Regions from separate parts of the Homo sapiens genome. Here region 1 is linked to region 2. A link means that fine-mapping ties the variant in region 2 to the expression of a gene that starts in the linked region. Tissue or cell type: whole blood. Region 2 holds a variant in brackets; the other region holds the start of a gene. All regions are shown on one strand. Distances are from middle to middle.

Evidence for each region. PIP is the estimated chance that this variant, and not a neighbour inherited with it, causes the effect.
Region 1: TNIP2 starts here. The variant in region 2 is fine-mapped to the expression of TNIP2 in whole blood (TOPMed, PIP above 0.99).

Annotation. Positions count from the first base shown.
Region 1 is chr4:2,747,739-2,763,649 of GRCh38, forward strand. It overlaps TNIP2 (TNFAIP3 interacting protein 2), which reads right to left and starts at 8,598. Exons shown (of 6, transcript NM_024309.4): 1 at 8,276-8,598; 2 at 1-207. The coding sequence starts at 8,551. LOC102723763 (a long non-coding RNA gene) reads left to right here and starts at 13,994. Exons shown (of 3, transcript XR_001741552.2): 1 at 13,994-14,413. RefSeq lists enhancers at 50-99, 13,846-14,670, 15,474-15,911 and silencers at 8,141-8,200, 8,221-8,740, 8,921-9,060.
Region 2 is chr4:2,724,933-2,740,672 of GRCh38, forward strand. FAM193A (family with sequence similarity 193 member A) reads left to right here. Exons shown (of 21, transcript NM_001366318.2): 21 at 6,843-7,641. The coding sequence ends at 6,936. Among named protein-coding and RNA genes, the nearest start is that of TNIP2, 24 kb to the right of the region's middle. The variant G/A (reference allele first, on the strand shown) is at 11,391.

The DNA.
Region 1 (15,911 bases), 23 kb after region 2:
GGTGGCGGTCAGCGTCCTCCGCAGCTGATGGGTCTCGTTGGCCAAGGAGCGGCACAGGACGTCACTGGCGGCCCGGGCGCGCTCCCCTTCTGCCATGCTCCTCCGTAGCAGGACGACTTCCTTCTCTCGCTCGTGTTGGGGCTGGCTCAGCAGCTGCTGCATCTCCCTCTCTTTTTCTTCTAGTCGCTCAGTCAGCCTCTCAATTTCCTAAGTGGAAGATTTAAAAGCACAGTTTACTGAATTAAAAGAAGCAGTGTCAAGAGCAAATGTTCAGAAAGCAAAAGAAGACCTGGCGTGGATGCCCCATCACCAGACACAAACATACTCACTCAGAAGTTGGGCGTTTGAACTAACAATTACTCACTCAGAAGTTGGGCATTTGAACTATTAACTCTGGAGTTTTTCAGCCTACAATGTTCTGTTCTGAAACTTCATCTCAAATTTTTTTTTTTTTTGAGACAGAGTTTCACTCTGTTGCCCAGGCTGGAGTGCAATGGCACAATCTTGGCTCGCTGCAACCTCCACCTCCCAGGTTCAAGCGATTCTCCCACCTCAGCCTCCTCAGTAGCTGGGATTATAGAGCCCACCACCAAGCCCAGCTAAAAGAATTTTTTTTTTTTTTGAGACGGAGTCTCGCTCTGTCGCTCAGGCTCGAGTGCAGTGGAGCGATCTCAGCTCACTGCAAGCTCCGCCTCAGAGGTTCACACCATTCTCCTGCCTCAGCCTTCCGAGTAGCTGGGACTACAGGCACACGCCACCACGCCCAGCTAATTTTTTGTATTTTTAGTAGAGATGGGGTTTCACCATGTTAGCCAGGATGGTCTCGATCTCCTGACCTCATGATCCGCCTACCTCGGCATCCGCCCACCTCAGCCTCCCAAAGTGCTGGGATTACAGGCGTGAGCCACCACGCCTGGCCCAATTTTTATATTTTTAGTAGAGACGGGGTTTCACCATGTTGGCCAGGCTAATCTCGAATTCCTGACCTTAGATGATCCGCCAGCCTTGGCCTCCCAAAGTACTGGGATTATAGGCGTGAGCCACTGCGCCCAGCAATTTTTTTTTTTTTTTTTTTGAGGCAGGGTCTCACTGTCACCCAGGCTAGAGTGCAGTGGCACAATCATGGCTCACTGCAGCCTCGACCTCCCCAGGCCCAAGCGATTCTCCATCCTAACCTGAGTAGCTGGGACTACAGGCACGTGCCACCGTGCCTGGTTAACTTTTTTGTATTTTGTAGAGACAGGGTTTTGCTGTGATGCTCAGGCTGGTCTTGAACTCCTGGGCTCAAGAGATCCACCCGCCTTGGCTTCCCAAAGTGCTGGGATGACAGGTGTGAGCCACCACGCCCTGCCAAATTCTATTTTCACAAGCAAGTTCATAATTTTAGATTTCATATCATCAAAATGTTTTTTTGAGATGAGGGTTTCGCTATATATAGCCCAAGCTGGTCTTAAACTCCTAGGCTCAAGCAAATCCTCCCACCTCAGCCTCCTGAATAGCTGGGACTACAGGCTCAAGCCACCACACCCAGTTATCATCAAATTATCAAAGTGGCAATTCCAAGCACTTTTTTGATGGGATAGGTAGAAACTCCACTGTGGTGGGTAACCCCAAAAAGATGTCCACAACCAAACCTCCCATTCCCCGGTATCTGGGAATGAAACCTTACTTAGAGATAGGGTCTTTGCAGATGTAATTAGTTAAGGTGGGGACAAAATGGATTAGGACGGGACTGGTGTCCTTGTAAGCAGACAGAAGTCTGGACAGACACACAGAGAGAAGACGACCACGTGACAACAAAGATAGGAGTGACGTCTTGTCTTGTGGATAAAGGCCAAGGAACACCAAGGATTGGTGGCCCCCACAGGAAGCTGAAGAGGCGAGGAAGGGTCCTTCCCTAGAACCTTGAGAGAGAGCCGATGCCTTGGTTTCTGGCTTCTGGCCTCTAGAACTGTGAAAGATTAAATTTCTGTTGCTTGAAGCCCCCCAGTTTGTGTTACTTTGTTACAGCAGCTCTAGGAAATTAACACACCCAACCCCAATTACTTCTTAAAGAATTTAAAAAGGTTCTTAAAATGACAATTTTATTTTGAGATAGGGTCTCGCCCTGTCACCCAGGCTGGAGTACAGTGGTGCCACCATGGTTCACTGTAGCCTCCACCTCCCAGACTCAAGTGATCCTCTTGCCTCAGCACCCTAAGTAGTTGGATTACAAGTGCATGCCACCGTACCTGGCTAATTTCTGTATTTTTTGCAGAGACAAGGTTTCACCACTTTGCCCAGTCTGGTCCTGGACTTGAGTGATCCGCCTGCCTCAGCCTCCCAAAGTGCTGGGATTATAGGCACGAGCCACCACATCTGACCTGACAATTTTTTAATATCTGGCCTTAAATTTGTACTTTTCCGTTTTCAAAGAATCCTCCAAAATAAACAGTACATTACATGAAGGAGGTGAAGCAGGCTCAACTAGTCCATCCCACAAGTGAAGAAACAGTTTCAGAAAAGTCACGGAGGAGCCCAAGCTTCCCCCAGAAGTGGCGGGAGAAGGGTCCAGCCTCTGTGTCTAGTACTTGAGGTAAGAAGGGACAGAGACCGGGAACCTAGAATGTTCTCATCACAATGGAACAAAATACTAAGCCCTATTACTGCGAGAACCCTGATTATTATTATTATTATTATTATTATTATTATTATTTTATTATTTTAGAGACAGGGTCTCGCCCTGACACCGAGGCTGCAATACAGTGGTATAATCACAGCTCACCGAAGCCTTGAACTCCTGGGTCCAAGTGTTCCTCCCGTCTCAACCTCCCAAATAGCTGGGACCATGGGCTCGAGGTCAAGGCTGCAGTGTGCTGTGACGGTGCCACTGCACTCTAGCCTGGGTGACAGTGAGACCCTCTTCAGGGATAAAGGACTTTGAGCAAAACCTGACTTCTGGTTTTTTTTTTTTTTGATAAAGACAGGGTGTGGCTATGTTGCCTAGGCTGGTCTTGAACTCCTGGCCTCAAGCAATCCTCCTCCTGCCTCAGCAGGGGTCACCGTGCCCAGGTAAAATCTGATTTCGGAGCCTCCTTCCTGCGTTGGTCAAATGCTGACAGTAGGAGAAACAAACAGCTCCACAAACAGGAGGGCAGCATGTCCACAGCTCGTAGATCCTGAGGGCGTGGCTCTCTCTTGCCTCCACACCCTAGTACTCAACACTGAGCCCAGCCCCACACAGATGCCCAGTAAATGGGAATAAGACTGGGCCATACAGAGACAGATCAGGACGCAGGCTCTACGCTCAACCCGTGGGGGCAGGCCAGCCCTGCAAAGGGCTGCCCCACTCATCCTCCCCTCGGCAGCATGAGGGCCCCAGGACCCCTCCAGCCCCCGGGCTTCTGGCATTTGTCACTGGCTCTGAAGTTGCAGAGCTTTGTGCTGGTTTATCTGTCTGAGTGCCTTGTCCAGTTAGTAACAGTTCTTAGGACACAACAGCACCTCGACCACTGTGGTCAGAAAACAAGGTACGAGCTGGAGTTGTGGGTCTACACACACAGGCACAACACACAGACTAGTCAGCAACTGGGCTGACATCTCTCAGGAAAGCCTGTCGCCGGGACCCACAACTCCATAGCTCCACGCTCAGAACACAAAAGTGTAAACAGCTCTATTAATAGTCTTGTGGATTGGCCTTAAGAGGCACAGTGGCCTCTTGGCTTTTAGCGCTGCGGCAACAAAGTATCACAAACTTGGTGTCTTAAACAACAGAAGTGTATTCTCCCAAAGCCTGTAATCCCAGCACTTTGGGAGGCCGAGGTGGGAGGATCACTTGAGCCCAAGGGTTGGGACTAGCCTGGGCAACATGGCGAGACCTTGTCTCTACAAAAAATACAAAAAACATTAGCCAGGCATGGTGGTGGGCGTTTGTAGTCCCAGCTACTCGGGAGGCTGAGACAGGAGGATCACTTAAGCCCAGGAGGTCAAGGCTGCAGTGAGCTATGATCATGCTACTGCACTCCAGCCTGGGCAACAGAGTGACCCTGTCAAAAAGAGGGGAGGGGAGGGGAGGAGAAAGGAAGAAAGAAAGGAACAAGGAAGGTGGCCCGGGGCGGTGGCTCATGCCTGCAATCCCAGCACTTTGGGAGGCTGAGGTGGGTGGATCACGAGGTCAGGAGTTCAAGACCAGCCTGGCCAACATGGTGAAACCCCGCCTCTACTAAAGATACAAAAAATTAGCCAGGCGTGCTGGTGGGCGCCTGTAGTCCCAGCTACCCAGGAGGCTGAGGCAGGAGAATCGCTTGAACCCGGGAGGTGGAGGTTGCACTGAGCCAAGATCCCGCCACTGCACTCCAGCCTGGCGACAGAGCAAGACTCAGTTTAAAAAAAAAAAAAAAGGAACAAGGAAGGAAAGAAAGAAAAGAAGAGAAGAGAAAAGAAAAGAAAGAGCCAAGAAAACAAGCAAAGCAAAGCTAAGCTAAGCCGGAAGGGAAAGGGGGCTGATACGCCAGGACCAGGCAAAGCCTATGAAGCTGGTCCCGAGAATGGTGACAGGATGGGGTTGGGCAGGACCAGGTTGCACAATGAATTGGTGCCATTATTCCAGAAAGTATTAACTGGAGGGGCTTTGTAAAGTTATCCACTCAGGCCTTGTGTTACAGATGAGGTAAGGTCTCAAGTCCAGCTGTGGCTGCACTGAGGACCACAATTCTCTGGCCTGATCTTGCCCCATCACACACTGACCGCAGCTTGATCACAGACGCACTGGTCAGCTCCTCCACATTCTGAGCCTCAGCACTCTCTCTGGGAGCCCTCAGTCCCTACTGGTCCAGGGTTCCTGCTCCTAACGGGCTCTCATAGATGAGAGCAACCTAGCAACGGCTTGCTTCCTGCTGTGTCTTTAACTCTGCACTGCCACCTCAGTGAACCCAGGGCCTGCAGGAGGTGACAAACCTCTCCATTCTTCCACAGGTTCCATGACCGACCTCAGATTGAACGTTGGGATGAGCAATAAATATGTAATTGCATAAAATACCAGATAAGGCCAGCACAGTGGCTCACGCCTGTAATACCAGCACTTTGAGAGGCCGAGACAGGAGGATCCCTGGAGGCCAGGAGTTTGAGACCAGCTTGGGCAACATCATGCGACCCCTTCTCTACAAAAACTTAAGAAGTTAGCCAGGTGTGGTGGCTCATAGTCCTTGTGGTAGGCTCTTCGCCTATAGTCCTAGACACTCGGGAGGCTGTGATGGGAGGGCTGGTTGAGCCCAGGAGTTCAAGGTTACAGTGAGCTATGATGGCCCCAAGGCATTCCAGCCTAGGTGGCAGTGTCACAGACCAAGACCCTGTCTCTAAAAAAATAAAAATAAAAATAAAAAAACAAACAAACAAAACTAAATCATTAAAATGTTCCTTAAATAATTAAAAATCCCCCCATGCTGGGCGTGGTGGCTCATGCCTGTAATCCTAGCACTTTGGGAGGCCAAGGCAGGAGGATCACTTGAAGAAAGGAGTTCTAGACCAGCCTGGGCGACACAGCAAGATCCCGTCTCTACAAAAAAAAAATAAAATTAGCCAGGTGTGATGGCACACTCCTGTGGTCCCAGCTATATGGGAGGCTGAGGCAGGAGGATCACGTAAGCCCAGGAGGTTGAGGCCACAGTGAGCCATGTTTGTGCCACTGCACTCCAGCCTGGGTAACAGAGTGAGACCCTGTCTCAAAAAAATAAAAAAATAAAAATCCCAAAACAAAACCTACATGCTTACATGTTGGGAAGACAGGACCAGGGCCAGTAATACTGGGAACACAGAACTAATTCTATCTGAGGCTACCAGGAAGCTGCAATAAGCTGCTTGGTGAGTGGCCAGATACACAGGACACCAGGGAACACATGTGAGCGGAACACCAATGGCCACCGACTGCAAGTATACTGCTCTGGTTGTGAGGTCCCTGCATCCTGTCCCACCAACATTCTGGAGATGACTTCGGAGTGTCCTTCCGGGTCCTTGGTCTGTACTCATCTGTGGCTCCTGGCATCCACAACTCTAAAACCTGTTGGTGCAGACCAGGTGACCTCTAAACTTCCCTTCTGCTCTAGTGAGTCAGGATGTACCTTCCAGAAAGAGGGAGAGAGTGGAGTAGGGGAGACACTGGCTGCTGAAAGTATTTTAAATGATGTAGATACTGACAACCTAATATTAAGTACAACTGTATACACAGCATGAAAACAACCATGCCAAGTGTACACACACCTTATACACAGAGGAAAAACAGGAAGAAGGCATGCCAAGAGATTAACACTAGTCATCCCTGCACTGTGGGACTACAGCGGCTATTTTATTCTTTATTTTTCAGATATTCAAAATTGTTTTATAATTTTTTTTCTTTTTTAAAAAGGGCATGTTTCTTTTTCTCTCTAAAATCAGGCTGTGGGGCCAACCCTGGAGACAAAAACTATCTTTCGCAGACTACTGCCTTTGCAGGCTTAGTTTCTTTCCTGGGCAAACTAGGATAATAGCCATGAATCAAATGGAATAATAGATGCCAGAGCTCACCCGAATGTTTCAGATGCTTGCAAATACTATTGCACAAAAAAACTGTTACTTATACTGCTGTTGTGGTGTTATAGTTTATCATCAAAAAACAGACATAAACATCATAGACAAGGACAAAGAGAAGAAAGTCAGGATTTGCGTCTTTTTTTGTTTGTTTTTGAGACGGAGTCTCGCTCTGTCGCCCAGGCTGGAGTGCAGTGGCACAATCTCGGCTCACTGCAAGCTCCGCCGCCCGGGTTCATGCCATTCTCCTGCCTCCGCCTCCCAAGTAGCTGGGACTACAGGCGCCCGCCACCACGCCCAGCTAATTTTTTGTATTTTTAGTAGAGATGGGTTTTCACCATGTTAGCCAGGATGGTCTCAATCTCCTGACCTCGTGATCCGCCGCCTTGGCCTCCCAAAGTGCTGGGATTACAGGCATGAGCCACCGCGTCCGGACCCTTGTGTCCATTTTTAATTTAATTTTTTCAGACAAGGTCTCACTTTGTCACCCAGGTTGGAGTGCAGTGGTGCGATCTTGGCTCACTGCAACCTCTGCCTCCCAGGCTCAAGTGATCCTCCCACCTAAGTCTCCCTAGTGGCTGGGAGCACGGGCACGTGCCACCATGCCCGGCTAATTTTTTGCACTTTTTGTAGACAGGGTTTCACCATGTTGCTCAGCCTTGTCTCGAACTCCTGGGCTCAGGCAATCTGCCCGCCTTGCCTCCGAAAGTACTGGGATTACAGGCGTGAGCCACTGCACCCAGCCTAGGATTTGTGTCCTTTATCAGACACGGGCTGCATTTGCCATTGCTCCCAGCATAGAGTTGAAGCGCCACTAGTGAAAGACACATGCATGGGTGAGGGCTGGAAGGGACTCTAGAACACAATATGAGTACACGACCTTGGACCCAAGACACACATGTGTGCGTACACACACACACCATACACACCCCTCAGAATGTGTCTCCCGCACACACACCTCAAAACACCCCTAAGAACCAACCGGAACATACACACTACACAATACACACAGAATACACACAGCATACACACACCCCCCTCGGAATGTGTTCCCACACACGAACCTCAAAATACCCCTAAGAGCCCACCTGAACATACACCACACACACACAGAACCCAAGAACTGCACCAACCCCCCTCCTCAGAACCCAGTGCCTCCTCACCATCCCCCAGGACCCAGTGCCCTCCCAACCCCCCAGGATCCAGCATTCGCTTATCCCCTTCAGAACCTTGCACCCTCACCCCGCAGGACCCAGAGCCCCCTCACCTCCACCAGCACCTGGTGACGCCTCAAACCCCCCAGGACCCAGCACACCTCAGCCCGTGGTGTCCCCTTATCCCACTCAGGACCTGGTCCCCCTCTCTCCCCTAGGACCCAGGGTCCCCTCACCCCCCAGAAGCTGTTGCCCTATCACCCCCAGGACCCGACGGCCCCTTACCCCCAGGACCTAGTGTCCCTCAACCCCAGGACCCGGCACCCCCTCAACCCCCAGGACCTGATGCTCCCCCAACCCCTCAGGAGCCGGGGCCCCCTCACCCCCAGGACCCGGCACCCCCTCAACTCCCAGGACCTGGTGCTCCCCCAACCCCTCAGGACCCGAGGCCAACTCAACCCCAGGACCCAGTACCCCCTCAACCCCTCAGGACCCGGGGCCCGCTCGCTCACCCACCCAGGACCCGGCGGCCGCCACACGCACTCTCGCTCCCGCAGCTCCTCTGGTACCCGCCCTCGTACCTGGCGCATCTGGGCCTCGGCGGCGCCGCCCTCCTGCCTTCGCAGCTGCTCCCGGAAGCGCGCAACCTGCTCCAGCAGCGCGTCCACTAGGGACGGCGCGGCGTCCCCCTCCAGCGCGGCCAGGCGGGCGCGGAGGCGAGCGATGAGGGCGTCGCGGGCAGCGAGCTGGTCCTGCAGGCGGCGCAGCCGCTGTCCGGCCTCGTGGTACAGGGTGCAGAGCGCGGCAGCTGCGCGCGGGGCCTCCTCCCAGCCGCCCGACCCCGGGTCCCGGGACATGGCTGTAGGCCCGCCCGGGAGGCCGCGCGGCCGCCGGCAACTTCCGCGCCCGGGCCCCGCCGGCTGCCGCCCTTCCCGGAACTTTCCCCGGTGCGCCCCGCCCACCCACAACAGCCCGGCCCCGCCCTCCCCCACGCAGCCCCGCCCCCCGCGCAGCCCCGCCCTTCCCCGCGCAGCCCCGCCCGACGGCAGCCCGCCCAGCCCCTTCTCGCCCGGCCCCACCCCTCCCACCGCCTACAGCCCGGCCCCGCCCCTGCCGTCCGCACCCGTCCGGGAGAGTTGGCCTGGCCCCCGAGGCTGTCCACACCCCAGCTGGTGCTGGGCTTATTCCAGTGGCCCCAAACATCCGCCTCTGAGGAGTTGTCGGAGAGTCGAACTCAGCCCAGGAGTTTGGGGATTCATCAGCCTCTGATGGAAAGGAAGGGCTTAACGACAACCCCCAAGCTCTGGAGCTAAGTGTGGGTCTGAATCTCCCCGCGAGGGTCCAGGCCTTGCGGCCACAGCAGCAACAGAAGCTCCAGGAGCTGAGCTCGCAGCGCACCAAGCACGTGGCATGTGTTCCGTCACCTGGGGACACTGAGCCCAGAAAGAGCTCCAACCCCCTGCCCCGCACGCCGCTTTCTTTTTTCTTTCCTTTTTTTTCTTCTTTTTGAGACGGAGTTTCGCTCTGTTGCCCAGGCTGGAGTGTAATGGCGCGATCTCGGCTCACTACAACCTCCGCCTCCCAGTTTCAAGCGATTCTCCTGCCTCAGCCTCCTGAGTAGCTGGGATTACAGGCGCCCGCCACCATGCCCTGCTAATTTTTTGGTATTATTAGTAGAGATGGTGTTTCACCATGTTGGCCAGGCTGGTCTTGAACTCCTGACCTCAGGTAGATCCACCGGCCTCAGCCTCCCAAAGTGCTGGGATTACAGGCGTCAGCCACTGCAGACGCTGCTTTGTAAGGTGGCTAGTATGGGCCCACGGGACAACCTTCCTGCTAGATGCTGTTCTTATATAGCAGAAGCAGCAGGAAACCAGCCCCTTCCCACCCTTTCGCTTTTCCATCCCTTTCCTTCCCCAAAATTCCCAGACAAACGCTAGTGTTTTTCCACAGCCCAGTCTTCCCCACAATGATGCCCAAGCACACATGGGGTCTTTCCAAGGTTCCCTACTCAGGATAGGGCAGGGGTCTTCCCTGTGTGTGCACTTGCCCACAGGCTCCGCCCCTGAGCAGCTTCTTGACTTTCTTCCCTTATGTGATCCACAGCCAAGCCTGAGCTGAGCCTGGGAAAACACAAGCTTGTAGAATCAGACAAGCCTATAAGCAAAGCCAGAGCCACCCAAGTGCTTATGGCCCGGACATTGGGCTACACAGGCCTGGCTTTGCTATGGAAGGCTCCTTCTTACTCATCAGAGCCTGGGCTTCCTCTCAGCAGAAGGAAGGGCAGAGCGAGTGCCCACCCTACCTGGTTGGGCTGTTGTGGGGACTAGAGGGTGGAGTGTGCATGGAATGCTTGTCCAGTGCAGTGGCTGCTGCACAGCAAGCCTACAGTCCCCATGGCTATGGTTACAAACAATGCCTATTGATTGTCTGGGGCATGAGTGGAAAAAACAAAACTGGACCCAGAGCTGTTAGAGGCTAATGTGTGGCCTGGGGCACGTCATTCCAGTGACCTACCTTGAGCCTCTGCCTCAACTGTAAAAGGTGCATGTGACAATCCACAGTCTCTCATCCAACAACAGCCTTGGGGTCAGGTGTGGTGTATTGTATTGTATTGTACTGTACTGTATCGTATTGATTTATTTTAGACGGAGTCTCAATCTGTCGCCCAGGCTGGAGTGCAGTGGTGTGATTTTTGGCTCATTGCAACCTCCGCCTCCCAGGTTCAAGTGATTCTCCCACCTCAGCCTCCCAATTAGCTGGGATTACAGGCGCCCGCCACCACGCCTGGCTAATTTTTTGTATTTTAGTAGAGACGGGGTTTCACCATATTGGTCAGGCTGGTCTCGAACTCCCGGCCTCAAGTGATCCGCCTGCCTCGGCCTCCCAAAGTGCTGGGATTGTAGGCGTGAGCCACCACGCCAGGCCGCCATGTGTATTTTAGAAATGAGGATCTTTGGATTTCAAATAGGTACATATAACTGGGGGAGCCAGCTTTCAAAGAGGATCCCCTCCTTCCAATATCCATGCTCCTGTGTAGTCCCCTCCAATCCACTGGAGAGGGCTGACCTGGGTAACTAAGAGGGTACTGCAGAAATGATGGAGTGTGACTTCTGCAGCTAGCTCCCACAAGACATCACGGCTACTGCCTTGCCCTCTTTCGGAGCATTCTCTCTGGGGGAAGCCACCCACCCTATCATCAAGTAACCCTGTGAAGAGGTCCATGTGGCAAGGAACTGAGGCTTCATGGCAGCAGCCGGCGCCCACTTGCCCACTGTGGTGAAGAAGCCACTTTGGGACTGTATCCTCCGACCCTAGTCAAGCCTTCAGAAGACAGTAGCCCCCACTGACATACTGACTGTGACTCCATGGAAGACCCCGGGCCAGGACCGCCCAGCTAAACTGCTCTGAGTCCCTGACCACAGAAACTGGATGAGATAATATATGCTTATTGTTTTAAGCTACTAACATTTGGGATAGTTTGTTCTGCAGCAATGGAAAATGAACAGCTAAAATCTGACTTAGTGCTCCCACTGGGACATGGTACAGCACCACAAAACCAGACAGATTACAATTTCTGCAAAGACAGGGTGACCATTCAGACTGCGAGATGAATGAAGATCAGAAAAAGCCTTGTAGCTGTTGAAGTCAGATTTTGTACCACCTTTAAGAAAAACATTTTGGGGCCAGGTGCAGTGGCTCATGCCTGTAATCCCAGCACTTAGGGAGGCCAAGGCAGGAGGATCTCTTGAGCCCAGAAGTTGGAGCCCAGCCTGGGCAACATAGCAAAACCCCATCTCTACAAAAAGTTAAAAGAAACTAGGTGGGTGTGATGGTGTGTGCCAGTAGTCCCAGATACTCAGGAGGCTGAGATAGGATTGCTTGAGGCAGGGGTTTGAGGCTGCAGTAAATGGTGATTGTGCCACTGCTCTCCAGCCTGGGCCACACAGTGAGACCCTGTCTCTGAGAAAAAAAAGAAAGAAAGAAAACTATTTTGGGTTTCTGAGCTTTTTAGATTTCAGAATTGCGGATGAGGGATCCCAGACCTCCAAGAACACTTGTCTTAGAGGGTGTTGTAAATATTCAGTAAGGTCACATGGGAAGTGCCCAGCATGCTCTTGCCTTCAATGCAAATTTAGGTACTGGGCCAGGCACTGGGGACTCATGTGTGGACATTGTAATAGTGGAGACAGATCCTTTTCCAAAACAAGAATAATTGCAACGTAAGGAAATTTTGTGTAAGGAAAGGAAGGGGAAAATGTGTATAAGAAAACAACAGGCTGGGTGCGGTGGCTCACACCTGTAATCCCAGCACTTTGGGAGACCAAGGCAGGCAGGACTCCTGAGGTCAGGAGTTCGAGACCACTCTGGCCAACATGGTGAAACCCTGTCTCTACTAAAAATACAAAAATTAGCCAGGCATGGTGGCGGGTGCCTGTAACCCCAGCTAGTCGGGAGGCTGAGGCAGGAGAATCGCTTGAACCCGGGAGGCAGAGGTTGCAGTGAGCCAAGATAGCGCCATTGCACTCCATCCTGGGTGACACAGCGAGACTCCCTCTCAAAAAAAAAAAAAAAAAAAAAAAAAAGGAGGAACCTAACTTTAAAGAGGGTGATTAGAGACAAGATAACAGTCCAGCTCTGCAACCTAAAGGGTGAGAAGGAGCCAGGCATGAGAGTTGGCTGAGTGAGTTCACAACTGGGTATGGCCTAGAGTTGGGCAGGAGCTGATACAGGGAGCAATTTCTTTCTTTTCCTTCCCTCCCTCCCTCCCTCCCTCTTTCTTTCCGCATTCTCTTTCTTTGTTTCTTTCGAGACAGCATTTCACTCTGTCACTCAAGCTGGAGTGCAATGCTGCGATCTCAGCTGCAACCTCTGCCTCCTGGGTTCAAGTGATTCTCCTTCCTCAGCCTCCTGAGTAGCTGGGATTACAGGCACGTGCCACCATGCCTGGTTAATTTTTGTATTTTTAGTAGAGATGGGGTTTCACCATGTTGGCCAGGCTGGTATCAAACTCCTGACTTCAAGTGATCTGCCTGCCTTGGCCTCCCAAAATGCTGGGATTACAGGCGTGAGCCACCGCGCCCAGCCAGCATTCACTTTCTGTGTTCTGAAACTCATCTAGATTTGTGCAGGATGGGGCTAGTGCAGCAGGCCTAGTGTGTTCAACCCTGCATGTTCCAAAAAAGGGACTGGCCCTAGACCTTTTGGAATATCCCACCTGATAAGAGTGTCTTTGCTTATGTGGGGGCCTTGGACCACACCAGCTAGTCTAAGCTAACTTGAGGCCTTGGGTCATGAGCTTGAGCTCTGAAGGAGCTGGAGACCGAGTAACTCAGGTCAGCCATATGGGCACTCCCCGCCTATGTGATCAACCCCTAACCACAGCTCTGGACACAAAGTCTCAGGTGAGCTTCCCAGTTTGGCAACACTCCCAGTACTGTTGGGAGAGCGATATCCTGTGGGTACTTGCACCTGGTCTCCCCGCCGGGCCCGCTCTATGTGCCTTATTTTTCCTTTGCCGATTTTCTTCTGTGTCCTTTTGCTGTAATGAATAACTGTGAGTCCTTCTACTGAATCGTCAAACCTGAGGACTGTCTTGACAACAGGGCTTTTTGCAGCAAATGTGTATTTGTGCTAGATGGACTGTTGCTCCCAGCTTTTTACCACCTCCCGCCACGCCCTTTTGCCGTGTGACTTTGGGCACCTGCCCTGGAGTAGACCAAGTCTGTCCCCACCTGCTCGAGGCTGCATGGCCAGTGGATATCAGCAGAGATCATGCAAGAGAAGGCCTAATGCGAGACACCAGCACCCCAGAGCAGCAAAGCCCTGGGTAGCTACTAATCCCAGAATGGGTGGGTAGAGTAAACGTGAGCCCCACCCACAGATGAAGCTGCTGAGGCCTGCGTGGTCCACTGGCCCTGCTGTTTTCAGACCCATCTGCACCCCTTTCTCCGGCTCACTGTAGACCAGTCATTCTGAAAGAGCCCATGAAAAACACCAAGTTCTCTCCTGCCTCAGGACTTTGTACCTGCTGCTTCAGTGCCTGGAATACTGACTCCTTCCCATGAAAAACACCAAGTTCTCTCCTGCCTCAGGACTTTGTACCTGCTGCTTCAGTGCCTGGAATACTGACTCCTTCCCATGAAAAACACCAAGTTCTCTCCTGCCTCAGGACTTTGTGCCTGCTGCTTCAGTGCCTGGAATACTCATTCCTTCCATTGTTTGCACAAGCACCGCCAGGGGGTGGGGCTCACAGAGGCGCACTGCGGCAGGAACTGGATGTGGGTGTCAAGGTGGTCACAGAACAGACGGCTGGGTCAGCTCCCCAAGGAGAAGCCCTGAGCTGCCCAACAGGTCCCTCTTAGGCCCCACACTTCAGAGGCAGGGCTGCCACGCATGCCTCCTGGATCACCTCTTGGTGTCCCATGGCCCCTGTGGGGCTCCTACCTGGCACATCCTCACCTCCAGGCTCCCCCGGCTCCAACTCAGCAGGGAGGTGGGAGGTTGACGGGAGCAGGCAGGCATGGGAGGGCTCAGCCGGGGTATGAGGGGTGGGCAGAGTCCCCCCACCTGGCTCACCCTTTCTCTTCCTCTCCTCCTCTGGGCACCTTCTTTGACTCCCACAGGCTCCTAGCTCAGACCTCTCCACTCTTCCTGGCTTTCCTTCAGGGAGGTCAGGAAAGTCAGGGACCCGTGGATAAAGACCAGGAGAACACAATGTAAGTATCTGGGCAAAGAACCTCTTAGGCAGAGGGCTTGGCGAGTGCAGAGCCCCAGGGACCTGTGCAGGGCCTGATCAAGACCCTTGGAGGAGTCCAGGGGTGGCTAGAGTGCAGCAAGCAGGGGAGGGACTGGAGTAGCCATAGAAGGGACCAGGACAGACTGAGCCCCAAACGTCCCCCTTGCCTGGCCCAGCCCATGTGTTTCCGGTATTGGTGGGTTCTTGGTCTCACTGACTTCAAGAATGAAGCTGTGGACCCTGGCAATGAGTGTTACAGCTCTTAAAGGCAGCGTGTCCGGAGTTTGTTCCTTCTGATGTTCAGATGTGTTCGGAGTTTTTTCCTTCTGGTGGGGTTCGTGGTCTCACTGGCTCAGGAGTGAAGCTGCGGACCTTCGCGGTGAGTGTCACAACTCTTAAGGTGGTGCGTCTGGAGTTGTTCGTTCCTCCCGGTGGGTTCGCGGTCTCACTGGCTTCAAGAGTGAAGCTGCAGACCTTCAACAAATGAGTGTTACAGCTCGTAAACACGGTGTGGACCCAAAGACTAAAAGAACAAAGCTTCCACAATGTGGTAAGGGTACCCCAGCGGGTTGCCGCTCCTGGCTCGGGCAGCCTTCTTTTATTCTCTTATCTGACCCCACCCACATCCTGCTGATTGGTAGAGCCGAGTGGTCTGTTTTCACAGGGTGCTGATTGGTGTGTTTACAATCCCTGAGCTAGACACAAAGGTTCTTCACGTCCCCGCCAGATTAGCTAGATACATTGTCGATTGGTGCATTCACAAACCCTGAGCTAGACACAGGGTGCTGATTGGTGTGTTTACGAACCTTGAGCTAGATACAGAGTACCGATTGGTGAATTTACAATCCCTTAGCTAGACATAAAGGTTCTCCACGTCCCCACCAGACTCAGGAGCCCAGCTGGCTTCACCCAGTGAATGTGGAGCTGCCTGCCAGTCCCGCACCGTGCACCCGCACTCCTCAGCCCTTGGGTGGTTGATGGGACTAGGCGCCGTGGAGCGGGGGCGGCGCTCGTCAGGGAGGCTCGGGCTGCACAGGAGCCCACGGAGGAGCGGGGGAGGCTCAGGCATGGCGGGCTGCAGGTTCCGAGCCCCGCCCCGCGGGAATGCAGCTAAGGCCCGGCGAGAAATTGAGCACAGCAGCTGCTGGCCCAGGTGCTAAGCCCCTCACTGCCTGTGGCCGGTGGGGCCGGCTGGCTGCTCCGAGTGCAGGGTCCGCCGAGCCCACGAACCCCACCAGAAGGAAGAAACTCTGAACACGTCCGAACATCAGAAGGAACAAACTCCAGACACACCGCCTTTAAGAACTGTAACACCGCGAGGGTCCGCGGCTTCATTCCTGAAGTCAGTGAGATCAAGAACCCACCAATTCCGGACACACATGGGGATGCTAGGCCAAAACCCGTAAGAGCCGGCCGGCCTCCAGGAGGGGCAGGGGTCTTCCCCTACACAGGGGTCCCGGCTCAGGGCCGCTGCCCTT
Region 2 (15,740 bases):
TTGGTGCAATCTCGGCTCACTGCAACCTCCGCCTTCCAGATTCAAGTGATTCTCCTGCCTCAGCTTCCTGAGTAGCCTCTATTACAGGCACCCACCACCATGCCCAGCTAATTTTTTTGTGTTTTTAGTAGAGACAGAGTTTCACCATGTTGGCCAGGCTGGCCTCTAACTCCTGAGCTCAGGTAATCCACCTACCTCCGCCTCCCAAAGTGCTGGGATTACAGGCGTGAGCCACCACACCTGGCCCTGTCTCTATTTTTTAATTAAATTAAAAACTATATATATATGTATGTATATACACACACATATATATGGTGCTTGCCTGGGCAACACAGCAAGACGTCATCTCTACAAAAAGTAAAATCAGCTGGGCATGGTGGCACACTACTGTAGTAGTTCCAGCTACCTGGGAAGCTCAGGTTGGGGAGGGTCGCTTGAGCCCAGGAGGTCGAGGTTGCAGTGAGCTGTGATCGTACCACTGCACTCCAGCCTGGGCAACAGAGTAAGACCCTGTCTCCAAAAAAAAAAAAAAAAAAAAAAAAAAGTAATCACACCAGAGAGGCAGTGAAATGTGAGAGCGGGTACATCCTACCCCTTCCCCCACCTCAAGCTGAGTAATCCACCTGCTGTATTGTATAGACTCTAGATAGAGTGTGGCCAAAGTAGCTGTAAATTAACCTCTTAATGTTGTCATAGGGATAACTCATATCCTGTAGTTCAACAGTTTATAGCCAATCACTATCAATATAATTTCTGTAAAGCAATGAGAATTCTTGACAACTTTTTTTTTTTTTTTAAGGCAATAGTCTTGCTCTGTCACCCAGGCCGGAGTGCAGTGGTATGATCTTGGCTCACTGGACCCTTGACCTCCCAGGCTCACTTGATCCTCCCACCTCAGCCTCCTGACTAGCTGGGACTACAGGCGTGGGCCACCAATCTCAGCTAATTTTTATTTTTATTTTTATTTTATTATTATTATTTTTTGAGATGGAGTCTCGCTCTGGCGCCCAGGCTGGAGTGCAGTGGCGCGATTTCGGCTCACTGCAAGCTCCGCCTCCCAAGTTCACGCCATTCTCCTGCCTCAGGCTCCTGAGTAGCTGCGACTACAGGCGCCCGCCACCACGCCTGGCAATTTTTTTTGTATTTTTAGTAGAGACGGGGTTTCACCGTGTTAGCCAGGATGGTCTCGATCTCCCGACCTCGTGATCCGCCCATCTCAGCCTCCCAAAGTACTGGGATTACAGGCGTGAGCCACCACGCCCAGCCTCAGCTAATTTTTAAAATGTTTAGTAGAGACAGTTCTCATTATGTTGTCCAGGGTGGTCTCAAACTCCTGGATTCAAGTGATCTATCTGCCTCGGCCTTCCAAACGTTGGGATTAGAGGCGTGAGCCACCAAGCCTGGCCCTGATAAACAACTTTTGTAATCACCTCCTCTCCTAATTTGTTCTTTTTTTCTTAAAAACTTGAGTTGTTCTTTCTAACCCCCTTCCCTTTCTAAAGAGGCAAGAGATTTGGGTTTCAGGGAAAAAAAAGGGAAACTGCCTTCTCTGGCCTTGCTTCACAGCATGGGATCCGGGTCCCGGTACTGGCAGTTTGGCTCCGTTCCTCCTGTGGCTTCTTTTTTTTTGGCCTAAATTACACAGCATGCTTTTAAAATTGCTGCTTCCTACTGTTTGTAATTCAGACCTTTTTTCCTCCTTAAATTTGTGACCAAGGCCAGGTACAGTGGCTCATGCCTGTAATCCCAATACTTTGGGAAGCCGAGGCGGGTGGATCACTTGAGGGTCAGGGGTTTGAGACCATCCTGGCCGACATGGTGAAACCCCACCTTTACTAAAAATACCAAAAAAAAAAAAAAAAAAAAAAAAAGCCGGGTGTGGTGGTGCACATCTGTAGTCCCAGCTACTCTGGAGTCTGAGGCAGGAGAATCTCTTGAACCCAGGAAGAGGAGGTTGTAGTGAGCCCAGATCGTGCCATTACACTCCAGCCTGGGCAACAAGAGCAAAACTCCGTCCCAAAAAAAAAAAAAAAAAAAATTGTGACCAGCCGGGCGCAGTGGCTCCTGCCTGTAATCCCACTACTTTGGGAGGCCAAAGCGGGCGGATCACGAGGTCAAGAGATAGAGACCATTCTGGCCAACATGGTGAAACCCCGTTTCTACTAAAAGTACAAAAATTAGCTGGGCGTGGTGGTGCTCGCCTGTAGTCCTAGCTACTCTGGAGGCTGAGGCAGGAGAATCGCTTGAACCCCGGAGGCGGAGGTTGCAATGAGCCGAGATCGCGTCACTGCACTCCAGCCTGGCAACAGCAAGACTCCGTCTCAAAAAAAAAAAAATTGTGACCAATTGCTGTTAGTTTTAAACTGGTGCATGAAGGTGAGTTCTCTCCCTGGCCCTCAAGAGATTTGGAAGTTTGTTTTAGAGAGTGCTCTCAGTCACTTAAGGATGTAAATCTTACTTACTTATTTATTTATTATTTTTTGAGACACAGTCTCTCACTCTGTCATCCAGGGAATTAGCAGCATTCCCGCTGAGACTGGATTTGAAACAAAGTTACAGTTCCTTAGAGCCACTACAGATTTCTTTCCTCAATGGATACCTTTAGCTTAGGATAACCACTAATAGGAATTAATTTGAATTTACTTGAAATTATTTATGACTCTTGACCATTTGGGATACCCATTTGTCATCTTTTCTACTAAAGGAAACTAAAATATTGCTCTCTCAAATACTGGGTATTGTTGAGCTGAAGACAGAGTGCAGGGGCTCTCTCTACCTCTCCTTTGTTTGCCTAAAGGTAGGACATAAATCCTTTTTTACTGAAGACAGCTACTCCGCAGCCCACAGATGGTGCCAGTGGGGCAGAGGAATCTGTGAGCAGACTTTAAACCCCAAAAGACTTTCTAAAAATGAAGTCTCAGTTCAGGCCGAAGTGAAGTGGCTTGATCACAGTTCATTGCTGGGACTACAGATGCGCCACCATGCCTAGCTAATTAAAAAAAAAAAAATTATTTTATTTATTTTTTTTTTGAGATGGAGTTTTGCTCTAGTTGCCCAGGCACGATCTTGGCTCACCGCAACCTCCGCCTGCCGGGTTCAAGCGATGCTCCTGCCTCAGCATCCTGGGTAGCTGGGATTACAGGCATGCGTCACCACGCCTGGCTAATTTTGTATTTTTAGTAGAGGCAGGGTTTCTCCATGTTGGTCAGGCTGGTCTCGAACTCCCGACCTCGGGTGATCTGCCCACCTTACCTCGGCCTCCCAAAGTGCTGGGATTACAGGCGTGAGCTGCCACACCCGGCCCAATTTTTTTTTTTTTTTTTTTTTTTTTGGTAGAGAAGGCATCTCTTTATGTTGCCCAGGCTGGCCTCTGAGTATCTTTCCACCTCAGTCTTCCAAAGTACTAGGATTACAAGCATGAACTACCTCCCCAGCCCAACCCCACAGGTTTACCTTCCCTCATTTTTGGCACTAGTCCCATGGGCAGTTTCGTTTTTCTATTTTCCTGTCTCTTTAAATCTTCCACCTGGCATTTGTGCATAGACTGTCAGCTGAGAAGCTGAGACCTTAGAAAATATGGCCTGACAGATGTGGCTTGCACCCTATTCGCAGCTAGCAAGACTTTCTTTAAGCTGTTCTTGAGAGGGGCCTGGGGCTGAAATTTTGTTCCCTCTTCAGAGACCTTGGTTAAAGCCATAAAGGGATTCTTAATTTTGGTCTCATGCATGTCTGTGTGTGTTGGCTTTGAGTCGTTTGTGCAGGTATGCCCTTGAATGATTATAAATTTCTGGTTTATATTTAGAATATGATAGGGGTTTTTTGTTGTTTTGTTTAGCCTTCTCCTAAGCTAAATGAAACCATATACTCAGAAAGTAAACAGTTTATTAAAACATTCAAAGACAAACAGCTTTAAATAGTGGTTACCCTAGACCTCTAATAAGCAAATATGTTCCACCTCCAAAACTTTTTTTTTTTTTTTTTTTTTTTTTTGGTGGGAGCACAAAGTCTGGTTCTGTCCGTCCAGGCCGTAGTGCAGTGGCGCATTCTCAGTTTGTTACAGTGGGTAGCTAGTCAGGTGTGAGCAGGGCAGGGGAGGGCCTCCTCCATCCACCAGGGATGTCAGGTGACCATCAGGTGATGGTTAGGCAGTTGTCACACTGCCTCTCTAAAATAATAATTGGTCATAGCCAGCACCAGGGAAACTGAAGCTGGTGATCAGCAGCTTCCCGATAAGATCTCAGGAATTGGGCAAGTGGGCTCAAGCATGTGCACTAAGGCACAGAATGGTGGAGTTTAACTGGTGTGTGACCTTCCAGGTACTTTACACCGGGAAGGGAAGATCGCCTCAGGTGAGCATGCGCATGCTCCAGTAAACACACTACGCATGCTCCCTCCCAAGTGCTAGCAGGCCAGTGTGTGTGCAGGCAGCCCACCCCAAGGGAGGAATTGGGAGAAGGGACGCGAGGCCCTGAAGTATGCCAACACCTAGAACCCTACATCAGAGGCCGGATGGGGCACTTGCCTCTCGAGTTGCCCACTTGGCCTCTTCCAAGTGCACTTTCCTTCCTTTTGTTTCTGCTCTAGAGCTTTGTAATGAACTTCCACTCCTGTTCTAAAACTTGCCTCAGTCTCTTCTTCTGCCTTATGGCCTTTGGTCAGATTCTTTCGTCTGAGGAGGCAATAATTGAGGCTGCTGCAGACACATACGGATTCGCCACCGGCAACTCAGGTACCTGCCACCGGCAACAGGCTCGCTCAGCCTCTGCCCACCAGGCTGAAGCCATGCTCCCACCACAGCCTCCCGAGTAGCTAGGACCACAGGTGTGCGCCACCACACCTGGCTAATTTTTGTGTTTTTTTGTAGAGATGAGGTTTTACCATGTTGCCCAGGCTGGCCTTGAACTTGTAAGCTCAAGTGATCCACGCACCTCAGCCTCCCAAAGTGCTGGGATTATAGGCATGAGCCACCACAGCAAGGCTTTATTATTTTTGAGACGGGTCTCACCTTTGTCACCCAGGCTGGAGTGCGGGGGCACCATCACAGCTCACTGCAGCCTTGACCTCCCAGGCTCAAGGATCCTCCCACCTCAGCCCCGAGCAGCTGGGACTATAGGCACATATGTGTACTGCCACTCCTGGCTAACTTTTTACTTTTTGTAAAGATGGAGTCTCACTGTGTTGCACGGGCTGGTCTCAAACGCCTGGGTTCAAGTGATTCTCCAACCTCAGCCTCCCAAAGTAGTAGGAAAACAGGCATGAGCCACCATGGCCAGCTTCAGATCTCCTCTTTGGTGTCAGTTTCAGGAAGGAAAAACCAAGAAACAAGAATGTTGACTATTTGCCTGGCTAAGACCTGACACAGGAATCCTTTTAAACAGCTTTAGAGTTGAAAGTTGACTTAATTAGAAGCTGATATTTAGGATATATGTGTATACAATTTTTTCGAGGCCTCTGCTTTCTATAAAAGCTTCTTGGAGGCCGGGCGCGGTGGCTCACGACTGTAATCCCAGCATTTTGCGAGGCCGAGGAGGGCAGATCACAAGGTCAGGATATTGAGAGCATCCTGGCTAACATGGTGAAACCCCATCTCTACTAAAAATAGAAGAAATTAGCTGGGCGTGGTGATAGGTGCCTGTAGTCCCAGCTACTTGGGAGGCTGAGGCAGGAGAATGGCATGAACCTGGGAGGCGAAGGTTGCAGTGAACCGAGATCACGCCACTGCACTCCAGCCTGGGCGACAGAGCAAGACTCCGTGTCAAGAAAAAAAAAAAAGCTTCTTGGCCAGGGAAGAAGCTACAAAAAATACAAAAATTAGCTGGGTGTTGTGGTATGCACCTGTAGTCCTAACTATTTGGGAAGCTGAGGCAGGAGAATCGCTTGAACCTGGGAGGCAGAGGTTGCAGTGAGCCAAGATCGTGCCACTGCACTCCAGCCTGGGTGACAGAGACTCCATTTGAAAAAAATTAAAAATTAGCTAGGTGTGGCCAGGCACAGTGGCTCACGCCTGTAATCCCAGCACTTTGGGAGGCCGAGGCAGGCGGATCACTTTAGGTCAGGAGTACAGATCAGCCTGGTCAACATGGTGAAACCCTCTTTCTACTAAAAATACAAAAATCAGCTGGACGTGGTGGTGGGCACCTGTAATCCCAGCTACTTGGGAGGCTGAGGCAGGAGAATCACTTCAACGTGGGAGGCGGAGGCTTCAGTGAGCTGAGATTGTGCCATTGCACTCTAGCCTGGATGACAAGAGCGAAACTCCTTCTCAAAAAAAAAAAAAAAAAAAAAAAAAAAACCGGTGTGGTGGTACATGCCTGTAGTCCTAGCTACTTGGGAGGCTGAGGCAGAGAATTGCTTGAACCTTGGAGGTGGAGGTTGCAGTGAGCCGAAACTGCCACTGAACTCCAGCCTGGGCAAGAGAGTGAGACCCTGTCTCAAAAAAAAAAGGATTTCACCATGTTGCCCAGGCTGGTCTCGAACTCCTAAGTTGAAGTGATTTGCCCTCCTCAGCCTCCCAAAGTGCTGGGATTACAGGTATGAGCCACCACACCCTGCCTGGGCCTGATAATTTAAGGGCGCTCACAGCTCTCAGATTAAACGTTTCTTTTCTTTCTCAGGACTCCTTCCGCCCACCCATTCCTCCTCCCGAGTCCTTTCCCCTTCTCAAGTGCAGCCTGTAGCAGGGCCTGGAGGGGACCCTTGACACTGTGCCCCTCACCGAGAATCTAAACCCCTGACCCCGCAGTGAGTTTCTGGCAAGAACAGGAGTGTGATGGGCTTTGCCAAGCACCAGCTTGGTTGTGGGCTGTTTCCTTCAGTGACTGTTTGGCTTTTTGTCTTTGCAGGTTCTGCTTGGATTCTGCTAGACAGACCCGACAAAGACTGTCTATCAACTGGTCCAATTTTAGCTTGAAAAAAGCCACCTTTGCTGCCCACTGAATGAGGACTCCCTGGAGAGGGACACGCGAGAGGCAGGCCAGGCTGCACCACCCCAAGAGCCACGCCCCTCGCTGGCGCCCCAGAGCCGTGGTGCTTGCCAAGGGCTGTGCGGAGCTGGTGCTGCCTGAAACCCCAGACCGAGAAGTTGATGCTCGGCCCACGCCGTTAGCTCGTGTGCGTGTAGTCTGTGCGTGAGACTCCTTCGATTGTAGCTCTGTGCTGTCGGATTGGAACAGTAGTTCCCGCCAAGTCCTCCCACCACCGCGGCCTCGGAGGCCTGGGCCGTGGCCAGATAGGAGTTTGCATCATCCACGTGGCTCCGTTGCCTCTGCATTGCGCCCTGTCCTGTCATGTGTCCTCACCGGGGTATCGGCCGTCACTCAGCTCTCCTGTGCCCCTGCGTCTCACCCTAGGCGGGCTGGGCGGGGCAGGCCTCCTTTGTTCTCCACAATCTACTGTCTCCGAGTGTACACGTTGCGCTGTTTGTGTTTGATCCCCCTGACTTGTAGCCAGCTTGTGTAAGATCCCTTGCAGAACGAGAAAGTTAAAAACAAGCCCACCCAGTACTCACACCATCAAGTCTGTTATAGAGTGTACGACTGTATTAACACGGAGGCCTGCCTGGCTACTTTTTTAACATATTGTTAAGTAATATTAAAATCATGTCTTTCTTTTTGAAAGATGGAATACATTAGTACAGCAGGAGACCTCGGCTGCTTCTTTCTGCTGGGGGAGTGGGGGGATAGCGGGAGAGGGCGTGTAGGTGATGTGTCCGCCATGGGGAGCCAGGGCACCACCCCGGAGCAGGTCCCAGGTCTCTCCAGGCAACGGCTCACCCATCCTGGTGCCCCCACCATCCTCTGTGTGCCAGGCAGAGCAGGCAGCAGGAGACAGAAAGCTCCCAAGGAGCTGCATCCTGGTTACTTCTTACTACCTAGAACACTCAGTAGCTCCCACTTCTCCCAGCCTCATGTTCAGCCTGTCTCTGTGTGCCCTATCAGAGTATGACTTCACTCTGAGTGAAGGTGAATAGGGCAGGGCCTGGTTGGGGAGAGGGTAGGGAGAGCCAGCTTCTGGAGGTATTCGGACGATGAGGCCACAGGATTTCCTGGTGGACAGGATGCAGGTAGGAGAAAGAGGTGAAGACCTGCGCTGTGTGCCTGGAGGTGGGACTGGAGACCAGTTCTGGATGGTGAGTCTGGGATGTCCACCGGCCACCCAGGTGAGAGGTCTGGAACTGGGGACTGCTGTTCATGGACAGAGCCTGTGTGAGGGCCCTGCAGGGGTGAGTAGATGGGATGGGGGCCCGAGCTGTGGAACCAGGAAGGCAGAGGAGGGTGAGGAGGCTTCGAGGCAGGTCAGGGGAGACAAGGCCCAGGGCACCCCCACCCAGGCACCGGTTTGCAGGAGAATGAGGTGGGGACAGCAGGTCCTAGAACTCTGGAGATTGCACGAAAGCTGGAAAAGGGTCACCAACCAGGGGAGGTGCAGCACGACGAACTTTCCTCACTTGTTTTTTTTTCCAGGTGTGAGGAAGAGAACGTTCCTTTGTTCGTGGGATGATAGGGCAGAGAGTGAAGCAGGTCAGGCCATGACCACGGCAACAGTAGTGTCCTTGAAACCCCAGTGCAGGCCCCCGGGACTCCAGCCGCTGCCTCTTCTGGCTGCGGTGGTGGCTGGGGAAAGGCCCAGGCCCGGGCCTCGCCCTATGGGGAAGCTGCCTGCCCAGGCCCCCAGTACCTGCCCTGCTCTCCCCATGGACAGCCTTTAACACTGTGCTGAACCATGCCTGTTGCTGAGGGGAACTGCACAGCCCTGAGTGGTGATGGGGAACTCTGGGTGCCCCGACACACTAAGCATCATGCTGGGACCTAGAGACCCTCAGACGCCCACCGCACATGCCCAGTTCTGGGCACTCCCATCACCTCCATGGCAACCCTGCCTGCGGCTTCACAGCTCTGCCCGCTCTGGCCCCTGACCTGCACCTGCTAGCTTTGGCCCTCAGGCTCCCAGCCATTGTCCTGGCCATGCCCTTGCCAGGAAGGATCTTCCTCTATTTCCCTGGAAACCACTCATCCTTCCAGCATCCCAGGGTGCTTATAGGACATCCAGCTCCAGGGTCCCTGACTTGATGGGAGCCCCTGGGGTTCCTGATGACATCACTTCCCTGTGGGGGAGGGTGGGGCCGCCATAGGGGAGCCTCACATTTTTGACTCACACAGTAGCACAGGGTGAGTATCCCTTATCCCTTATCTGGCATCCTCAGTACCAGAAGTGTGTCCAGTTTCAGACTTTTTTGGATTTGGAGTATTTACATCATGCTTACCAATTGAGCATTTCTAATCCAAAAATCTGAAATCCAAAATGCTCCAATGAGCATTTCCTTGGAGCATCATCTTAACACTCAAAAGGATTTGAATTTTGGAACCTTTCGGGTTAGGCATACTCAACCTGTAATAGTCATGAAATGAAACAATAACAATAGTTAGAAAGGAAACTTTAACAGTGAACAGTTGTATTGAGAAGCTTACTGTTTTCTGCACCCTCAGCTCTGAGCCCTGCTCAGAGATTTTGCCTGGGTAGAGAAACAGGCAGTAAAACAGATAGCTCCTAATCTCTTCCCAAAGAAACTGACTTTGTTTGCAACAAAGAATGAAGAGGTTCAAGCCTGAAGGCACTCAGAAACAGTGGAGGCCATGAAACCCTGGGAAGAGAGACAAGATGCAGGCTCAGCTACAGGCCAGATAGTTTGCAGGAGGTAACTGAAGAAAAGAGCTGGGAGAAGGCATCCAGGGGTCAGAAGGAATATCACACAGTGTTCCCAGAAACTCTCTCTTCAAAGGAGTCAGAATTTGATTGGATTTGTTTGTAGAGCATGGTGCCCCAGGGCATTGTTGAAAACAATAGAATTGGCAATTAGTGGTTTAATGAATGTGGTCAGGGAAAGAGGAAGAGAACTCTACCAAAATGACTGTCATCCCAGGGTGACTGTGGGCATACGCAAAGCTACACACCCTGAGGAGCAACATCATAGCTGGAATACTAGTGGGTAGTAGAAAGAAAACAATGATATAATAAGGCTGCATCAAATGAATATAGAAATTATTTTAAAGGAACCAAATGGAAATTATGGAATCTGAAAAGTTACGTGTGTATATATATACACACACATATATATACACACACACATATATATACACACACACAGAGAGAGACAGATGGAGTCTTGCTCTGTCACCCAGGCTGGAGTGCAGTGGCACCATTTTGGCTCACTGCAACCTCCAACTCCTGGGTTCAAGTGATTCTCCTGTCTCAGCCTCCGCAGTAGCTGGGACTATAGTTACACACCACCATGCCTGGCTAATTTTTGTATTTTTTGTTGAGACGGTGTTTCACTGTGTTGGTCAGGCTGGTCTCAAACTCCTGACCTCAGGTGAGCTGCCCACCTTGGCCTCCCAAAGTGCTGAGATTACAGGCATGAGCCACTGCACCCAGCCTAAATTTTAAAATTAGCAGAAGGAAAAATAAGTGGATTTGAAGATAGGCTGATGGAGATTATGCCAGCCAAAGAACATAGAGAAAAAAATAATGAAAATAAAGAGTCTCAGAAAAATGTGGGACACCATTAAGCATACCAGCCTATGTATAATGGGAATATCAAAAGGAGAGCAAAGAGCAAAAAAAATATTCAAAGAAATAATAGTCGAAAACCTCCCAAATTGAAAAATAGTAACATGTATCCCAGAAGTTGAAAATGTTTATATTAAGAAACAAGAAAGATCTCACTCAAATCAATAAACTAACTTGTCACCTTAAGACACTGGAAAAAGAGCAAACTAGGCCTAAAGTAAGCAGAAGGAATAAAATCATAAAAATTAGATCAGAAATTAATGAAATAGAGGATGCAAAAATAATGGAGAAAATCAACAAAACCAAAAGTTTTAAAAAGGTAAACAAAATAGACATCTGTAGCAAGATTGACCAGGGAAGGATTCAAATTACTAGAATCAGAACTGGCCACACAGAAAAAGGATTTTAAAGGAATACTAGAACAATTATATGCCAGCAAATTTGGTAATTTAGATGATATCTTAGTCCATTCATGCAGCTATGACCAAATATCACAGACTGAGTAATTTATAAATAATAGAAGTTTATTTCTCACAGTTCTGGAAGCTGTGAAGTTCAAGAGCAAAGTGCACCAACAGATTCAGTGTCTGGTAAGGGCTCACTCTCTGCTTCCAAAGTGGCACCTTGTTGCTGTATCTTCATATGGTAGAAGGGCAAAAAGGGGAATTAAGGTGATCCCTTCAACCTCTTTTATAAAAGCTGTAATCCCTTTCATGATGATGGAGCACTCATGATTTGAACACTTCCCAGAAGGCCCCACCTCTTAATACTATCACCTTGGGCACTAAGTTCTAACATATGAACATATAAACCATAGCAGATGA[G/A]ATGGACAAATTTCTAGACAGGAAGAAGCTACAAGAACTGACTCCAGAAGAAATAGACAATCTGAATAGACCTATAATGAGTGAAGATGTTGAAATAGTAATTTAAAACAGGGAAAAGTACCCACAAAAGCTCAAGCCTAGAAGTCTTCACTGCTGCATTTTACCATACAGTTAGAGAAGAATTAAAACCAATTTTTCAAACTTTCAGAAATAGAAGAAGGAACACTTCCCAACTAATTCTGTGAGGCCAGTATTACCTTGATACCAAAACTAGACAAAGACATCACAAGAAAACTACAGACTATTATCTCATGAATATTGATGCAAAATTCCTCAACAAAATACTAGAAAACCAAATCCAGCAATATAAGAAAAGAAATATACACCGTGATCAAGTGGAATCCCAGGAATGTAAGGGTGGTTCAATATCCAACACATACTTAATGTAATCATATTAATCGAAATTTTAATTGCATGATCATCTCAATAGATGCAAAAAAAGCATTTGACAAAATCCAACACTTTTGCATAATAAAGACATTTCACCAAGTGTGAATAGAAGAGAACTTCCTCAACCTGAAGAATGACATCTACAAAAAATTCACTGTTAATATCATCCTTAATGTTGTGAAAGACCGCATGCTTTCCCCCTAAGATCAGGAACAAGGCAAAGATATCTGTTTTGCAGTTTCTATTCAACATTGTGCTAGAGGTTCTAGCCAAAGCAGTTAGGCCCAGGCAGGCGGATCACGAGGTCAGGAGTTCAAGACCAGCCTGGCCAACATAGTGAAACCCCATGTCTACTAAAAATACAAAAATTAGTTGGGTGTTGTGGTGCGCACCTGTAGTCCCAGCTACTTCGGAGGCTGAGGCAGGATAATCACTTGAGCCCCGGAGGCGGAGGTTGCAGTGAGCTGAGATTGCCACTGCACTCCAGCTTGGGCAACAGAGCAAGACTCTGTCTCAAAAAAAAAAAAAAATTTCAGCTGGGCATGGTGGCTCAAGCCTGTAATCCCTGCACTTTGGGAGGCTGAGGCAGGTGGATCATGAGGTCAGGAGATTGAGACCATCCTGGCTAACATGGTGAAACCCCGTCTCTACTAAAGATACCAAAAAAAAAAAAAAAAAAAAAAAAAAGCCCTGCATGGTGGCAGGCGCCTGTAGTCCCAGCTACTCGGGAGGCTGAGGCAGGAGAATGGCGTGAACCCGGGGGGCGGAGCTTGCAGTGAGCCGAGATCATGCCACTGCACTCCAGACTGGGCAACAGAGTGAGACTCTGTCTCAAAAAAAAAAAAAAATTTTTTTTTCAGGGAACTTCTATCTCAGTAAACTTTCTAGGGCTCCCGTGGTGTGGGGCCTGTCAAGATATTCCTTCCAAGGTGAAGGATAAGTCGCCTCATTTGGTCCCTCCTACAACCAAGAAGATCCACAATGCTTAGTGGGTCTATTTGGATTTTGGAGGCAACACATTCCTCACTTAGATGTGTTACTCCAGCCCATTTATCTAGTGACCTAAAAGGCTGCCAGTTTTGAGTGGGGTCCAGAACAGGAGAAGGCTCTGCAACAGGTCCAGGCTGCTGTGCAAGCTGCTCTGCCACTTGGGCCATATGACCCAGCGATCCAATGGTGCTTGAGGCGTCAGTAGCAGATAGGGATGCTGTTTGGAGCCTTTGGCAGGCCCCCATAGGTGAATCACAGTGGAGGCCTGTAGGATTTTCACCCCATAGGTGAATCACAGCGGAGGCCTGTAGGATCTGGAGAAGATGGCCCTGCCATCTTCTGCAGCTAACTACTCTCCTTTTGAGAGACAGCTCTTGGCCTGTTACTGGGCTTTGGTGGAAACTGAATGTTTGACTATGGGTCATCAAGTCACCATATGACCTGAACTGCCCATCATAAACTGGGTGCTTTCTGACCCATCACCATAAAGTAGGTCGTGCACAGCAGCATTCCATCATCAAAGAGAAGTGGCACATATGTGATTGAGCTCAAGCAGGTCCTGAAGGCACAAGCAAGTTACATGAAGAAGTAGCTCAAATGCCCATGGTCTCCACTCCTGCCACCCTGCCTCCTCTCCCCCAGCCTGCACCAATGGCCTCATGAGGAGTTCCCTATGATCAGTGGACAGAGGAAGAGAAGACTAGGGCCTGGCTCACAGATGCTTCTGCACGATATGAAGGCACCACCCAAAAGTGGACAGCTGCAGCAATACAGCCTCTTTTTAGGACATGCCTGAAGGACAGCAGTGAAGGGAAATCTTCCCAGTGGGCAGAAGTTGGAGCGGTGCACCTGGTTGTGCACTTTGCATGGGAGGAGAAATGGCCAGGTGTGTGATTATGTACTGATTCATGGGCTGTAGACAATGGTTTGCCTGGATGGGACTTGGAAGACAATGGTCAGGGGCTTGAAAGAAGCATTATTGGAAAATTGGTGACAAATTTGAGGAAGAGGTATGTGGATGGACCTCTCCAAGTGGTCAAAAACTGAAGATATTTGTATCCCCTGTGAGTGCTCACCAGCGGATGACCTCAACAGAGGAGAATTTTAATAATCAAGTGGGTAGGATGACCTGTTCTGTGGACACCACTCAGCCTCTTTCCCCAGCCACCTGCCATCGCCCAATGGGCCCATGAACAGAGTGGCCATGGTGGCAGGGATGGAGATTACACATGGAGATTCAGCAACATGGACCTCCACTAGCCAAGGCTGACTTGTCTACAGCCACTGCTGAGTGCCCAATTTGGCAGCAGCAGAGACTAACACTGAGCCTCAATATGGCACCATTCTTCAGGGTGATCAGCCAGCTACCTGGTGGCAGGTTGATTATATTGGACCTCTTCCATCATGGAAAGGGCAGAGGTTTGTCCTCACCGGAATAGACACTTACTCCTGATGTGGGTTTGCCTATCTTGCACGCAGTGCTTCTGCCAAGACTACCATCCATGGACTCAAGGAATGCCTCATCCACCATCAGGGTGTTCCACACAGCATTGCCTCTGAGCAAGGCACTCACTTTACAGCTAAAGAAGTGTGGCAGTGGGCTCATGCTCATGGAATTCACTGATCTTACCACGTTCCCCATCATCCTGAAGCAGCTGGATTGATAGAACGGTGGAATGGCCTTCTGAAGTCACAATTACAACACCAACTAGGTGACAATACTTTGCAGGGCTGGGACCAAGTTCTCCAGAAGGCCATGTATGCTCTGAATCAGCATCCAAGATATGATATTGTTTCTCCCTTAACCAGGATGCACGGGTCCAGGAATCAAGGCACTCAAGTGGAAGTGGCACCACTCGCCATCACCCCTAGTGATCCACTAGCAAAATGTTTGCTCCCTGTTCCCATGACATTATGTTCTGCTGGCCTAGAGGTCTTAGTTCCAGAGGGAGGAACGCTGCCACCAGGAGACACAACTATTCCATTAAGCTAGAAGTTAAGATTGCCACCTGGACACTCTGGGCTCCTCCTACCTTTAAGTCAACAGGCTAAGGAGGAGTTATGGTGTTGGCTGGAGTGATTGATCTGGACTATCAAGATGGAATCAGTCTCGGCCGGGTGTGGTGGCTCACGCCTGTAATCCCAGCATTTTGGGAGGCCAAGGCGGGCGGATCATGAGGTCAGGAGATTGAGACCATCCTGGCTAACACGGTGAAACCCCGTCTCTACTACACAAAATACAAAACATTAGCTGGGCATGGTGGCAAGTGCCTGTAGTCCCAGCTACTCGGGAGGCTGAGGCAGGAGAATGGTGTGAACCCGTGAGGCGGAGCCTGCAGAGAGCCGAGATTGCACCACTGCACTCCAGCCTGGGCGACAGAGCGACACTCCATCTCAAAAAAAAAAAAAAGATGGAATTAGTCTCTTACTCCACAACAGAGGTAAGGAAGAGTATGCATGGAATACAGGAGATCCATTAGGACATCTCTTAGTATTATCTAATGCCCTGTGATTAAGGTCAATGGGAAACTACAACAGCCCAATCCAGGCAGGACTACAAATCAGGAATGAAGGTTCGGGTCACTCCACCAGGAAAAAAACCACCATCTGCTGAGGTGCTTGCTGAAGGCAAAGGGAATACAGAATGGGTAGTAGAAGAAGGTAGGCATCAATAACGGCTATGACCACATGACCAGCTGCAGGAACCAGGACTGTAATTGCTGTGAGTATTTCCTCCTTTTGATAAAAAACGTTTGTGCATGTATACGCTAGTACTAAGAAAATCTCTTCATTTCCTTTCTCCTTTATCGTGTGACATAAGATTTATTGACTTCACATCAGCATTTAAGTACCGTCAGTCACCTTGGCCGGGTGTGGTGGCTCATGCCTGTAATCCCAGCACGCTGGGAG